Homo sapiens: one gene and its partner. The protein of the gene in region 1 interacts with the protein of each later gene in a pairwise test. Each region holds a gene or a part of one and is shown on either strand. Other genes may lie near its edges. The genes, in order: C5AR2 and DCDC2.

Evidence for each region.
Region 2: the proteins of C5AR2 (region 1) and DCDC2 interact in binary tests that used the Homo sapiens proteins (3 or more experiments, as listed by UniProt).

Annotation. Positions count from the first base shown.
Region 1 is NC_000019.10:47,327,882-47,335,572, forward strand, and holds the start of C5AR2 (C5a anaphylatoxin chemotactic receptor 2), read left to right. Parts: upstream 1-4,293; 5' UTR 4,294-4,468; intron 4,469-7,691.
Region 2 is NC_000006.12:24,172,466-24,180,280, reverse strand, and holds part of DCDC2 (doublecortin domain-containing protein 2), read left to right. Parts: intron 1-1,648; coding exon 1,649-1,951; intron 1,952-5,446; coding exon 5,447-5,551; 3' UTR 5,552-7,815. UniProt on the Homo sapiens protein: Protein that plays a role in the inhibition of canonical Wnt signaling pathway. May be involved in neuronal migration during development of the cerebral neocortex. Involved in the control of ciliogenesis and ciliary length.

The DNA of each region.
Region 1 (7,691 bases):
CGGGGTTTCACCATGTTAGCCAGGATGGTCTCGATCTCCTGACCTCGTAATCCACCTGCCTCGGCCTCCCAAAGTGCTGGGATTACAGGCGTGAGCCACCGCGCCCGGCTGAAAAATGATAATTTCATATGGATTGACTTAAGAACCTTTTAGGATGGTTGGGTGTGGTGGCTAATACCTGTAATCCCAGCACTTTCGGAGGCTGAAGCAGGTGGATTATTTGAGGTCAGGAGTTTGAGACAACCCTGGCCAACATGGTGAAACCCCGTTTCTACTAAAAATACAAAAATTAGCTGGGTATGGTGGCAGGTGCCTGTAATCCCAGCTACTTAGGAGGCTGAGGCTGGAGAATTGCTTGAACCTGGGAGGCAGAGGGTATAGTGAGCCAAGATCACACCACTGCACTCGAGCCTGGGCGACATAGCAAGACTCTGTCTCAAAAAAAAAAAAAAAGAAAAGAGAAAGAAAAAGAAAAAAAGAAGCAAAAAAAATCCTTGTAGGATGTTCTCATTCAAAATTTCTCCCAGGAGGAAATGGCTGGTGAGTTGAGGGGGTAGTGCTCGGCTTTTCACAGGGTGGCTGAGAGAGAATCCCCTGCACGTACACACTGGCCCCCCTCCTGCCTTCCGAGGCCTGTAGAGACCCTGTTCTTGGCCCATAGCAACCCCCAGACCTCCAAGTGACAGCCCTCAGCTCCAGGGACACCAGAAAATCTTTGCCTTCCCAAATCTAAGATTTTTGTTTTGTTTTTGTTTTTTTGGAAACGGAGTCCTGCTCTGTCGCCCAGGCTGGAGTGCAGTGGTGCCATCTTGGCTCATTGCAACCTCCACCTCCCAGGTTCAAACAATTCTCCTGCCTCAGCCTCCTGAGTAGCTGGGATTACAGGTACTCCCCAACCAAGCCTGACTAATTTTTTTTTTTTTTTGTATTTTCAGTAGAGACAGGGTTTCACAATGTTGGCCAGGTGGGTCTGGAACTCCTGACCTCAAATGATCCACTGGCCTTGGCTTCCCAAAGTGCTGGGATTACAGAAGTAAGCCACTGCGCCCAGCCTCAAATCTAAGACACTTAAAAATTTGTTTTTTTGGTTTTTTTTTTTTGAGACGCAGTTTCGCTCTTGTTGCCCAGGCTACAGTGCAATGGCGCGATCTCGGCTCACCGCAACCTCCGCCTCCCAGGTTCAAGCGATTCTCCTGCCTTAGCCTCCCGAGTAGCTGGGATTACAGGCGCCCACCACCTAGGCTAATTTTGTATTTTTAGTAGAGACGGGGTTTCTCCATGTTGGTCAGGCTGGTCTTGAACTCCCGACCTCAGGTGATCCACCCACCTTGGCATCCCAAAGTGCTGGGATTACAGGCATGAGCCACCGTGACTGGCAATTTTTTTAAAATTTTAAATTATTTTTTCGAGTCAGGGCCTTTCTCTGTTGCTCAGGCTGGAGTGCAGTGGTGCATTCACAGTTCACTGCAGCCTTGAGCTCTTGGGCTCAAGCGATCCTCCCTCCTCAGCCTCCACCTCCCACTTCAGCCTCCAGAGTAGCAGGACTACAGGCTCGCTCCAACACGCCTGGCTAATTAAAACAAATTCTAGGGGGGCAGATGCTGTGGCTAGCACACGTAATCACGGCACTTTGGAAGGCCAGTGTGGGAGGATTGCTCGAGCCTAGGAATTGGAGGCAAGACTAGGCAACAGAGACAGACCCCATCTCTACAAAAAGTTTTTTAAAAAATTAGCTGGGTGTGGTGGCTTGAGCCTGTAGTCCCAACTACTTTGGGGGCTGAGGTGGGAGGATTGCTTGAACCCAGGAGGTCAAGGCTGCGGTGAGCTGTGATCACACCACTGCACTCCAATCTGGGTGAAGAGTCAGACCCTGGATTAAAAAAATATATATTTTTCCCCCAGAGACAGCATCTCACTATGTTGGTCAGGCTGGTCTCAAAATCCTAGCCTCAAGCAGTCCTCACACCTCGGCCTCCTAAAGTGTGGAGATTAGAGGTGTAAGCCATCCTGCCTGGCTGCAATTCTAAGAAATGTATGTTGAAAAACTTAGTGGATGTATCAGGAGTTTATCAAGATGAAGCATCTGAGGAACAGACCATCGTTAACTTTTCAAGTTAAAGCAAGTTTGAGCTCCCGGGCGTGGTGGCTCATGCCTGTAATCCCAGCACTTTGGGAGGCCGAGGTGGGCAGATCATGAGGTCAGGAGATCGAGACCATCCTGGCTAACACGGCGAAACCCCGTCTCTACTAAAAATACAAAAAAAATTAGCCGGGCGTGGTGGCGGGTGCCTGTAGTCCCAGCTACTCGGGGGGGCTGAGGCAGGAGAATGGTGTGAACCCGGGAGGTGGAGCTTGCAGTGAGCCGAGATCGCGCCACTGCACTCCAGCCTGGGCAACAGAGACAGACTCCGTCTCAAAAAAAAAAAAAAAAAGAAAGAAAAAAAGAAAGTTTGAGCTGATAAAGGGAAGGTTCCACCTCGGTTTCTTTCCTCTTAATCTCTTCTTCAGGCCAGGGCAGATTCCCACAGGAGATTGGGGCTGGCAGGATGTCCCTCCTCTCCCAAGGAGGGGGCTTCCCGGGACAGAAGAGGAGGGGAGGGGACTTGGGGGATGTTTTCCTCTCTGAGGGTCCGGGGTGAGGGTCAGCCAACGCAGGGTCACCTAGTCAGGGAAACAGAGTGGAGGAAGCCCTGGGTCAAACAGTGAGTCCCAGCTCCTTGTCTCACGAACAACTTCCTCTAGCAAAGTGATTTCATTCTCTAAAACAATAACAAAAGAAGTGTGTAAATATATCCCTTGAATCCCTAAAGCACGCACAAAAAAAGCACAAACAGAAAGAACTGCTGAATAAAGAGGTTCCAAAGTTGGGGTTGGAGCCACTTCCTCTTGCTAAGCCTGCGTGGTATGTGTACTTTAAGAATTCACGTTACAGTCTTGTTGCTGTTGCGTGAGCCTAGCGTATACTATGTGCCAGGCACTGCTCCGGTTTTTTTGTTTTTGTTTTTTTGAGACAGAGTCTCACTCTGTCGCCCAGGCTGGAGTGCAATGGTGAGATCTCGGCTCACTGGAACCTCCGCCTCCTCGGTTCAAATGATTCTCCTGCCTCGGCCTCCCGAGTAGCTGGGATTACAGGCACGCACCACCACGCCCAGCTAATTTTTGTATTTTTAGTAGAGATGGTGTTCTGCCATGTTGGCCAGGCTGGTCTTGAACACTTGACTTCAAGTGATCCACCTGCCTCGGCCTCCCAAAGTGCTGGGATTACAGATGTGAGCTACCGCGCCCAGCCAGTTCTGTGCGTTTTAAATGTATCCAACGCTCATAGCAAACATCCACTGCACAGATGAGGAAGTTGAGGTTCAGAGGGGCTGAGGCCCTGAACTTTGATGAGGGTGTGTCGACCTGGAATATGAATCTCATCATTCTGGCCCTTGAGTTCTTGTTCTCAGCCACTGTGATATGCTGGAAGAGGTTAAGAATTGCTATCACGGCTGTGGCTCACTTCTGTAATCCCAGCCCTTTGGGAGGTCGAGGTGTGAGGATGGCTTGAGGCTGGGCAACACAGCAAGGCCGCACCTCTACAGAAAATTTTAAAAAATTAGCCAGGTATGTTGGTGCATGCCTGTAGTCCTAGCTACTCAGGAGGCTGAGGTGGGAGGATCACTTGAGCCTAGGAGTTTGAGGCTGCAGTGAGGCATAATGTTTTCACTGCACGCCAGTCTGAGCGACAGAGCAAGACTCCATCTCTAAAAAAAGTAAAGCATCGCTATGGCCAACAACATCTTCCCATTCTACAGATGGAAAATTGAGGCCCAAGAAAGGAGTTGTTTGTGCTTTTTCTACCACTGAGGCGTTGGGCCCTGCGCTCAGCTGCTGTGGTCTTTTTGTGGAGAATGTGACCCCAGGCTGTCTTCCTCAGAGCCGAGGAGGAGGGAGGGATGTTTGTCTGTCCTGAGGCTGCAGAAGGGAGGGGTTGAACACAGTTAGAGGCCTGGAGGTGGCTGGGGGCAGCTGGCATGTTGTGGGCAAACAGAATCCAGGCCAAGACCTCTAAGGCGTTAAAGAGCAAACCGCATGCAGGTCTGGCTTCCAGGAAGGTGGGACTTCGAGACTAGGGTTGGGGACTTGGGATCAGCCCTCCACCCAACCGAGCCCTCTCCTGCCCTGCCAGCCACCCCGTAATTTTGGGTTCTGTGAGTCACGGGAAGAAGACAGGACAAACACACCCTGAGAGCGAGACAAGGCCACTCCTATTTTGTACTGCTTATAAAGATTCACTGGGACTGGTGAGGTGGCAGTGCTCAGCAGCATCCGACAGGAGCCCTGGCAAACAGGACGGATTTCCAGGACTCTACCAGCTGCCAGACACGGCAGGGAGAGACCCCAGACCTCCTGGGTCCTGGCTGTGGGCCCGGATTGGGCTCCCAAGTGGCGTTTGACTCACGTGGGGACACTCTTGGAAGAGACGGTAAGGATGGAGGCTACAAGGGCGGGAAGGAGGGAGAGAGAGATTGCATGATCTTGGCTTCTCGGAATCATTACTTTCAGAATCTGGGAAGCAGAACTAGAGTTTGAGAAGTGCAGTCTTATTACAGCCACACTGGAACGCACGTCACAGTCCTGGGCTCTTGAATTAACTTGGGCAGCCCAGCAGCAAAGCTCTTGTCAAAGGATCTAAGCATTTTTTTTCTTTCTCTTTTTGGAGACAGGTTTTCATTCTTGTTGCCCAGGCTGGAGTGCAATGGTGCCATCTTGGCTCACCGCAACCTCCACCTCCCAGGTTCAAGGGATTCTCTTGTCTCAGCTGGGATTACAAGCGCATGCCACCATGCCTGGCTAATTTTGTATTTTTAGTAGAGATGGGGTTTCTCCATGTTGGTCAGGCTGGTCTCGAACTCCCGACCTCAGGTGATCTGTCCGCCTTGGCCTCCCAAAGTGCTGGGATTACAGGCGTGAGCCACTGTGCCCTGCCCAAATGGTTTTTCACACACAGATGTATGGGAAACAGCCTCTCTCAAACCTGCAGGAATTCCTGCAGCTTTCGGCAGATCCACCAAACTGTAGCATGTGTAGCAAGCAAGCCCTTTAACTCAGCGATTCCAATTCTTTTCTCTTTCTTTCCTTTTCTCTCTTTCTTTCTTTTGACAGGGTCTCACTCTGTCTCCCAGGCTGGAGTGCAGTGGTGCGATCTTGGCTCACTGCAACCTCCGCCTCCCAGGTTCAAGTGATTCTCCTGCCCCAGCCTGCTGAGTAGCTGGGATTACAGGTGCACGCCACCACACCTAGCTAATTTTTGTATTTTTAGTAGAGATGGGGTTTCACCATGTTGGCCAGGCTGGTCTCCAACTTTTGACCTCAGGTGATCCACCTACCTTGGCCTCCCAAAGTGCTGGGATTACAGGCGTGAATCACCGTGCCTGGCCCCCTCAATGTTCTATCACAAAATCTGTCCACATTCTTGTGTGGTGTTTGTTCATTCTCATCGTGTAGAATATTCCACAGGGTGAACACCCCATGATGTGTTTATCCATTCTGCTGTGGGTGGCTATTTGGACGGTTTCTCATCTTGGGCTGCTGTGAACATTCTGGCACATGTATTCTGGTGAGCATATGTGTTCTTTTGCGGAAAGGAGGCTGATTGCTGGGTCGTGAGGGAGGAATCCTAGAAGATGGATGTTCAGGAATAAAGAATGTTCAGACTCCTTTTTTTTTTTTTTTTTTTTGAGATGGAGTCTTGCTCAGGCTGGAGTGCAGTGGTGCGATCTCGGCTCACTGCAACCTCCGCCTCCTGGGTTCACGCCATTCTCCTGCCTCAGCCTCCTGAGTAGCTGGGACTACAGGCGCCCGCCACCGCGCCCAGCTAATTTTTTGTATTTTTTAGTAGAGATGGGGTTTCACCATGTTAGCCAGGATGGTCTCGATCTCCTGACCTCGTGATCCACCTGCCTGGGCCTCCCAAAGTGCCGGGGATTACAGGTGTGAGCCACTGCGCCCGGCCAGCCTTCTTTGATTCTGCTCCAGGGTTTTCCAGAGCAGAGAACCCAGCAAGACTGGATGCACAGACAGGCGTGCACCAAGAGGCACATGTGAGGGTGCTTGCAATCACAACAAAAGAAACCTAAGTGACCACTTAGTCTCTCTGTGCCTCAGTTTACTCTTTTATCCTTTCACTTACCAAATATCGACCATGCCTGTGCTGTGTGCCAGGTTCTGTCCCAGATGCCAGGGACACAGCGGCACCCGAGGCTGGAAGGAGCTGATGTTGTGGGATATGAGGATGATAATATTGACCTCAAGGGTTTGTGTTGAGGGTTATATCTTGTAGGTCATAGGTGCTCAATAAAAGCCATCTATTATTTTAATTATTATGAAATAATAAGAAGGGTACCTATGATTTAAAAGCTAGATATAAGTACAGACGCTCTTTGACTTACAATGGGGTCCCATCTCTATCAACCCATCGTAAGGCTGGGCACAGTGGCTCACGCCTGTAATGGCAGCACTTTTGGGAGGCTGAGGTGGGAGGATTTCTTGAGCCCAGGAGTTTGAGATCAGCCTGGGCAACAGAGTAAGGGCTGTCCATACAGAAAAAAAAAAAAAAATTAGCTGGGCATGATGGCGTGCACCCGTAGTCCCAGCTACTCCAGAGGCTGAGGCAGGAGGATCAGTTGAGCCTAGGAGGTAGAGGCTGTGGTGAGCCGAGGTTGAACCACTGAACTCAGCTTGGGTGACTGAACAAGACGAAAACACAAAACAAAAGCCCCCAACATTTTCAACATAAGTTGAAAATATTGTAAATCAAATTGGATTTAATACACCTAGCTTACTGAACATCATAGCCTACTTTTTTTTTTTGAGACAGGGTCTCACTCTGTTGTCCAGGCTGGAGTGCAGTGGCGCGATCTTGGCTCACTGCAGCCTTGACCTCACGGGCGTAGCCTACCTCAAATGTGTTCAGAACATTTACATTACCCAACAGCAAGACAAAATCATCTAAGCCAAATCCAATTTTTTTTTTTTTGAGATGGAGTCTCACTCTGTCACCCATGCTGGAGTGCAGTGGTGTGATCTCAGCTGACTGCAACCTCCACCTCCCAGCTTCAAGGGATTCTCCTGCCTCGGCCTTCTGAGTAGCTGAGATTACAGGCACTCGCCCCCACGCCCAGCTAATTTTTTTTTTTTTTTAAATCTTTAGCAGAGATGAGATTTTATCATGTTGGCCAGGCTGGTCTCAAACTCCTGACCTCAAGTGATCCGTCTGCCTAGGACTCCCAAAGCGTTGGGATTACAGGTGTGAGCTTCTGCACCTGGCCCTGTTTCTCATTATTCTCCTTACCATTGTTATTGAATGGCCTTTAGTTAATAAGCACCACTTGGGCAGACAGTGGACTGTTTTTGATGCTTTGAGGACGAATGGGGTTGATATCTGTACAGATAGACAGGAAAACAGATATCGGGCACGTTAAGTGGAAAAGATGAAGAAATGGAACAACGTATGTTGAAAGCTCCCATTTCTGGTTAAGACGTTACAAAGGAAATGCCATCTACGATACCATTGCTTTGGGCTTACAGCTGGGCAAATTATATGCACAGAAAGTTTCCTGGATTGGGCTGGGCATGTTGACTCACGCCTGTAATCCCAGCACTTTGGGAGGCCGAGGTGGGCGGATCATGAGGTCAGGAGATTGAGA
Region 2 (7,815 bases), on another chromosome or scaffold:
AAAAACCGTGTTATTTTATTGATAGCATTGAAGAAATATGGTGGCTCCAGGAGAGAATGTATTGTAACAAATGGGAAGGGATTTCCATGTTTTTTAGGATCTGTGATGTGCCAGAAACTATGACACTTTATATAACTTTTCTTTAATCTTCATGGAAGTTTTGTTACGTTCCCATTTTACAAATGGGGAATCTGAAACTCACCAAAGTTAGGTAACAGCCAGTAAGTGCCTGGTCAGGACTTGAACCTGGGTTTTTCTCCAAAGTCTTGGCTCTGAAAGCTGGCCTCCTGTTCCCTCCCCCACCCCTTGTTTTTTTTTTTTTTTTTTGAGATGGAGTCTTGCTCTGTCGCCCAGGCTGGAGTACAGTAGCACTATCTGGGCTCACTGCAAGCTCTGCCTCCCGGGTTCATGCAATTCTCCTGCCTCAGCCTCCTGAGTAGCTGGGACCACAGGTGCCCACCACCACGCCTGGCTAATTTTTTGTATTTTTAGTAGAGATGGGGTTTCACCGTGTTAGCCAGGATGGTCTCAATCTCCTGACCTCGTGATCTGCCCGCCTCGGCCTCCCAAAGTGCTGGGATTACAGGCATAAGCCACCGTGCCTGGCCTCCTGTTCCCTCTTGAAGCAGATTTATGTGTATCAAAATAACAGTAGAACAGTGAAATGCTTGATTAAGGTTTATGAAATACTTTAGTATTTATTCTTTTTTTTTTTTTTTTTTTTTTTTTTTTTGAGATGGTGTCTTGCTCTGTCACCCAGGCTGGAGTGCAGTGGCGCGATCTCGGCTCACTGCAAGCTCTGCCTCCTGGGTTCACGCCATTCTCCTGCCTCAGCCTCCCGAGTAGCTGGGACTACAGGTGTGCACCACCATGCCCAGCTAATTTTTTTGTATTTTTAGTAGAGATGGGGTTTCACCATGTTAGCCAGGATGGTCTCGATCTCCTGACCTCATGATCTGCCCGCCTCGGCCTCCCAAAGTGCTAGGATTACAAGTGTGACCACTGTGCCTGGCCCTCAGCATTTATTATTCTTACAGAGAGGACATATAGTTTCTTGACCTTAGATCTGCAGGAAAATCAGTTATTGTGTTTAGAGAGAAGCTGTCAGCTTCCTTAGGCATTGTGGGGAAAGCTGTCTACATTCCACGTCAGAAAACATGAATTCACAGCCTGGTGCCATTGCCCTCATCCTTAGCCTTGAGGATGACAATCTTTCCACAAAGACTTTTTTTTTTTAAACCTCTTCCTCTGGGCCAGGTGCTTCACTAGACAGTGGCCAAGGACCTTGCGGTTTGGCTTTCTATCTGCCATGGGGGTTACAAGCACTGGTTCTGGAGTCACAGGCCTAGTTCAAACTCTGGCTCTTTCTGTGGGATCTTGGGCTCCACCTGTTTAGTTTTCTCATCTGCAAAATGGGAATGATAACAATTTCAAAGGATTGTTGTGAGGATTAAATGAGGGAATGCTTGTAACATGTGGCATGTGGTAGGTACTCAGTAAACGTAAGTGCGTTCTATACTGTAAAGTACTATGCAAATGTAAGAATGTTTTACTTGACTGTAATATAAGTATTACATTACTATGATGTGCAGTGGAAATGTTCTGTTATGCTTCTTACTTTTATCCATTATTCCTTTTGATCCATCAGAGGCCAGCAGAAATAGTAGACGAGGAAGAAGATGGAGAGAAGGCAAACAAGGATGCAGAACAGAAAGAAGACTTTTCAGGAATGAATGGTGACCTTGAAGAGGAAGGAGGTAGGGAGGCTACAGATGCCCCTGAGCAAGTCGAGGAGATTCTGGATCACAGTGAGCAGCAGGCACGCCCTGCTCGTGTAAATGGAGGCACCGATGAGGAGAATGGTGAGGAGCTGCAGCAGGTTAATAATGAGCTTCAACTGGTCCTAGACAAGGAAAGAAAGTCTCAAGGAGCTGGCAGTGGACAAGATGAGGTATTTCTATTGCTTTTGCTTGCTTATGTGAATGCATGAATATGTGTGTGTGTACATGCGTGCATTCAGAGAATTAATCAAGTGTTTAGGACTTGTATTGAAACCACTTGTGGTTGAGTAGGAAAGATCCAATACCATTTAATCCCTTTACTTACTAGTTATTTCAACCATTTAACAATACTGCCATTGACCTGACAGTTTGTGTCTGCCCTTCTGCCATTCATACATTTAGCCATTGACCCATCCATCTACTTACCTCCTGCCTAATTTTACAAGAAAATGTACAGAGCCTTCTAAGAACATACATAATCCAAGAAAGAAATATAAAAAAGTAAGAATAAGTTAAGACCAGAGAAGGTAGAAACCAAAAAAGAATATCAAGACCAGTGAGACCTAGACATGAAATAAGGAATACTTTCTCTATTATGAGTGATTTCTTTGATCTCTAGAAGTACTGAAGTTAGTTTGCTTTTTTCTACTTTAAATAGATTAATCAAATTAAGCATTCAACACATTAGGCACTTGGGTAGTATACAGTTCTATTTATTATACAGAGAGGATAAAGAAATATGTGGTGAAAATAAGAGAACAGAAAAAGTAATATCTGGTGAAATCTCTCTTTTCCTAGCCTGTTCTTCTATGTCTGATCCTGGAGTTGGATACTCATCAGTCCTGGCATTCTTCCACGGGACAATATGATCCTGTTGCTGCCAGGCTCAAGTTGAGTCTCACAGCATAAGAGGCAGGATGTTCTCCATAACATTCTCACCATCTGCTTATCCCATCCCTTCCTGTCTATCCGTCAGTTCAAGGTCCACCTCCCTCAAGGCTGTAACTGCTGAAGTGGGCCTTGGACTACTCATTCCTAATACCCACTATGATCACTGAGGTCTACTTGATTATTTATTATTGATGCATCTGATTTATCTTGCTTAGGGAAAGCAAGTTTAGCGGTGGCAAAATGCAAAATGTTCTGGTGGCCAGGTTTCAGTAACAGTACGAAGTTATCTGCAATCCACTATATGAGTTATTCAAAATGTTCTTAACATCTAAATGAAAATGCTCAGCATGTCTCTTATCTTTTCTCAAGGTGAGATAATCATAGTCCTATTCTATAAGAAATTCCCCATATTAGTTCTACATAGTCCTCAGCGTCATTTATATGGCACCTGTAATAGTAGGTTTCATACAACTCTTTGTTGTAGTAGCTTTTGATGAAAGCTTACAAAATGAAATCAAAGTGTAATTCTGTGTGGGACTAGATAGTAAGATCCAACATGATTTTTTTCCAGTGGTCTAGCTTAATTCAACATATCACATAAATAGATTTTACAGAAATGAATGGATTGCCTGTCCTTCCATCTTCCATAAATATAACTTTAAAAAATAATCCTGTAATTTGCAATGACATGAATAAACCTGGAGGACATTATGTTAAGTGAAATTAGCCAACCAAAGAAAGACACATACCATATGATCTCACTTATATGTGTAATCTAAAAACAGTTAAACTCATAGAAGTAGAAGGTAGAATGGTGGTTACCAGGGACTGAGTACAGGGTTGGAGAGATGTTGGTCAAATGATACAAAATTTCTGCGAGAAAGGAGGAATAAGTTCAAGAGATCTATTGTACAGTAAGGTGTCTAACGTATAATAACAATGTATTGTATACTTGAAAATCACTAACAGAGCAGATTTGAAGGGTTCTCACCACAAAAGATAAGTATGTGAGGTAAGGTGTATGTTAATTAACTCAAGCCATTTCACAATGGATACATATTTCAAAACATCATTTTGTATGCTATAAACATACAATTTTTATTTGCCAATTATGACAAATGAATATTTTTTTAAAGGGGAAAAATAGGCTTTTGATAGGAATTGGGCATCCGTCAAGATCAAGGTTATGTAATTTGGCATTGACCTGTGGTATGTAATGAGAGTGAATCTAAATTCTTGGGAATTCAAATAAGGAAGTGCCTAGTTTGTGATTTTTTTTTTTGAGACAACATCTAATTAGGGACTTTTTTTTTGTGACAAGGTCTCACTCTGCTACCCAGGCTGGAGTTCAGTGGCGTGATCACAGCTCACTGCAGCTTTGACCTCCCGGGCTCAAGTGATCCTCCCACTTCATCCTCCTGTGATAGCTGGGCCCACAGGTGCCACCATGCCAGGCCATATATACATATTTTTTAATATGGAGGAAGTCTCCCTCCCTGTGTTGCACAGGCTGGTTTTTAACTCCTGGACTCAAGCGATCCTCTTGCCTTGACCTCTCAAAGTGATGAGATTACAGCCACGTGCCACCATGCCCGGCCTAATTAGGGATTAGTAACAGAGCAGTTACTCACAAAGAGATTTAATCTTATTTGACTCATCTCTTACTTATAACAATGATATATTTTATCTTGTTCTCCCTAACATATTAGTATAGGTATATTTTAAGCATACCGAAATATATGAGAAACCAAATTTATGTGAATTGTAAGTTAAAAATGAATAGTTAACTTTTACAGAAGGACTGTCTACTAATAAAATGACTAGAAATTCTGTTCACCGTGTAACATTTTGTTCCATGTAACAATTCTTGTACAAAGCGAGATATGATTGTAGGAAAATACCAGGAAATACAGAGAATTTACAAGAAACAATTGACATTTATTGAGATTGAACTTGTACTATATTCAAGATACCATTTGAGACATTTCACAAAGGAACAGTGTGAAATAAGACACGGCACCAGTCATATATATATATAATTTCTTCAAAGCATCAGTCATGGCCTGTGTGGTTTGGGGAACCTGGAGCTACTCTGTCCCCCAGACTGGGTGCCCTTGTGGGGGCTGTGGAGCCTCTAGGATTTCATAGAGCAGACTTTGCAAACCTGCTGGTTCTAATCTCACCCACTCAGTTTTCAGTGTAGTCGGGGAAAGGTGAGTTGTACATGAGACAATGTCATTATTAACAGGAAAAACCCAAGTGGCAGGAGCAATAGTTGTTGTTGGAGAAATGCTGCCTCCACATTTTGATTTTCTGTCTTTTTCTTATCTACTTGCTACTTGATGGTACTTGGTACCATATTCACAACGAATTTGTGAATTCTAGGAGGAAACTAAAATTAGGAGAATGTCCCTGAATTTTTTCTTCCTTTGTCTCTGAAAATGCTAAACTGAAAAGTATAACTAAATTGAAGAAAAGCTCAAAGAGAAATCAAGAAAAAATGAGAAAAATAAAGCCTGCAGCATACAAAATGAGTCAGGGCCTTTCAAGCACTAGTAGATTATGAACCCCAAAAGGACTTTTGTACAAGTGTTGAGAAAACAGTATGTCCACTGGGTAATGATAGACAAAAAAACAAAGGGAACCCCAGGAACTCTTTTTAGTTAAATATTTATATAATTAAATAGAATCTTGAGTAATTTTTTCTTTATAAATGTCATTACCTTTGTGAACCAAACAGCTGAATACCTTTGTTTTGATCTATTTTCTTCTAGGCTGATGTAGACCCTCAAAGACCACCAAGGCCAGAAGTAAAAATTACCAGTCCAGAAGAAAATGAAAACAACCAACAAAACAAGGACTATGCTGCCGTGGCTTAGAACATTTTTAAAAAGAGAGTATATGGATCGCAAGAAAAATGAAGGGTTATCATACTTGAAAGATAAGCACATAGTTATTGCTGAATATAATGTGACACTATGGTCGAATACTACCTACGAATTATAACATTAGAAGCCTAGTGGAAAGACCAGATAACTTTAAATGGCTACTAAAGGATAATTACTTACTTTTATTGCATGTGTTTTAAAAGTCATATAGAAATATTAAATAAGACGGACAGAGGAGAATTTGCACTGGAAGACAATTGCCACTTGTAAAGGATGAAAAATAGGATCACTCTTATTGTACGCTTTATTATAAGTTTAGAAGGCAGTTTATTCTAAATAATTTTTCTCTAGGAAGGCGTAGAATTTTAAAGAACTGGTAATAGGAAAGCATGTACTATTTTCTTAAAGCAATAAACTCTTGAATGAACAGATTGCGATTTACTTTCAGACATAATTTGGAGATGGCAGTAGATCAAAATGTGTCCATGACTTGTTAACATGCCTTTCTTTCTTCCTCCTTAGCCAAAATCCACCTTTGAACTACAAAGACAGAGCAAGGCGTTCATTTTGGTGGGAGGAAGCATTGGTTCAGAGTGTTAGTGACTAGTATCGCCATGCCGTCACTTAAATGCTTTCAGGCTTGCATGCTTGTGGCTCCAATGGCGCACACTCAGGAAGGAATTGTAAAGGAGCACCCAGTTATATTATAAAGCCTGGATGTATGGTTTGCAGATAATGGAAATCCTGTGGATTTTCACTGATCCAGTCTATCTTTACCAATAGTATCTCTCTCTTCTCCCTTATGTTATTAGAGAACCTGATATTGGCTATTCCAAAGATTAAATTATTTTCAAATAGTTTTCAACAAAAATAAAAGTGTATTAGGAAGAAAAAAGTAGACTATATGAAGAGTTTGTGACTGCTCAATTTAACTTGTTTTTTGCCTTATTTCTATTAAGACTGTTTTACTATGTTTTTGCCCTAGGGATATCAGCAAATATTTATTTTTCCTAGCATGATATAGTTAGAATTTCAAGCAGATTTCTTTGTAATTAGAAGGCATCTGATAGAAATTGTAAAACTTTAGAAGTTATTATAATGAAACCAATTCCTGAATCACAACTTCATGGACTGACTAAATTGATTTATAGTTGCCTTGTGAGGTATGTATGGGGAAAACATAAAAACATAATTAAAACATAATTTCGTCCTTTTTATGAATTCTTAAGAGATGTTCTTCCATAAATATAGAAATAATATATTTTTCTTAAAGGATATATTTTTAATTATGTGGAAGTTGTAAGCTTGAAATTTTAACTTCTAGTGCTTTTCTAAAATTCACAATTACAAGTTTAAAACATTTTTTCTCTTCCAGGTTTCATTTGGAATAAAGAGTTGGCAGTTATATAAAGCACTTAATAATACTATAGAAAATAGATGTGTTTTTTCTTAATATGATTTTGGTATTTTCCACAGATCAGAAGTGTAAACAGAGAGATAATGTAACAGTATTTGGAAGAGATAATGACACAAGGATATAGTGATCTGGGAGCATGAATTAGAAACAGGGTACTATGTTTCTGGTGTAAAATCTAAATTGTGCTTTCTACTAGCGTTACTTTTTCAAATGGGATGATATAAAGCACTGTGGGCTATAAGCAACAATCTTGGGTTGGTAGGCAAATAGACCAATTGATCTTTATTATTATTATTATTATTATTATTATTATTTTTTGAGATGAAGTCTTGCTCTTGTCGCCCAGGCTGGGTGCAGTGGCATGATCTTGGCTTACTGCAACCTCTGCCTCCTGGGTTCAAGCACCTGAGCCTCCCGAGTAGCTGGGATTACAGGCATCTGCCACCACACCTGGCTAATTTTTGTATTTTTTGTAGAGACAGATGTTTCACCATGTTGGCCAGGCTGGTCTCAAACTCCTGACCTCAGGTGATCCGCCCGCCTTTGCATCCCAAAATGCTGGGATTACAGGTGTGAGCCACAGCACCCGGTCCCAGTTGGTCTTTTAATATTAAATTTGTGCACTATTACTGGGTCTGGAGTTAATGATTTCAAATAGTTTCTAAAAATAACTGATTAAATGTAAGAAATTATAACTAATTATCAAGGTGATTCTCTTTTGTTTCTTCAATGGAGAGTTTCTCTTTCTCTTTTCCTCCTCTAATAAAAATATTTCTTTTTTTCCTGTCCTTTTATTCATTATATTATGAAACTTAGGTTTTAGGAAACACCTTAAGCG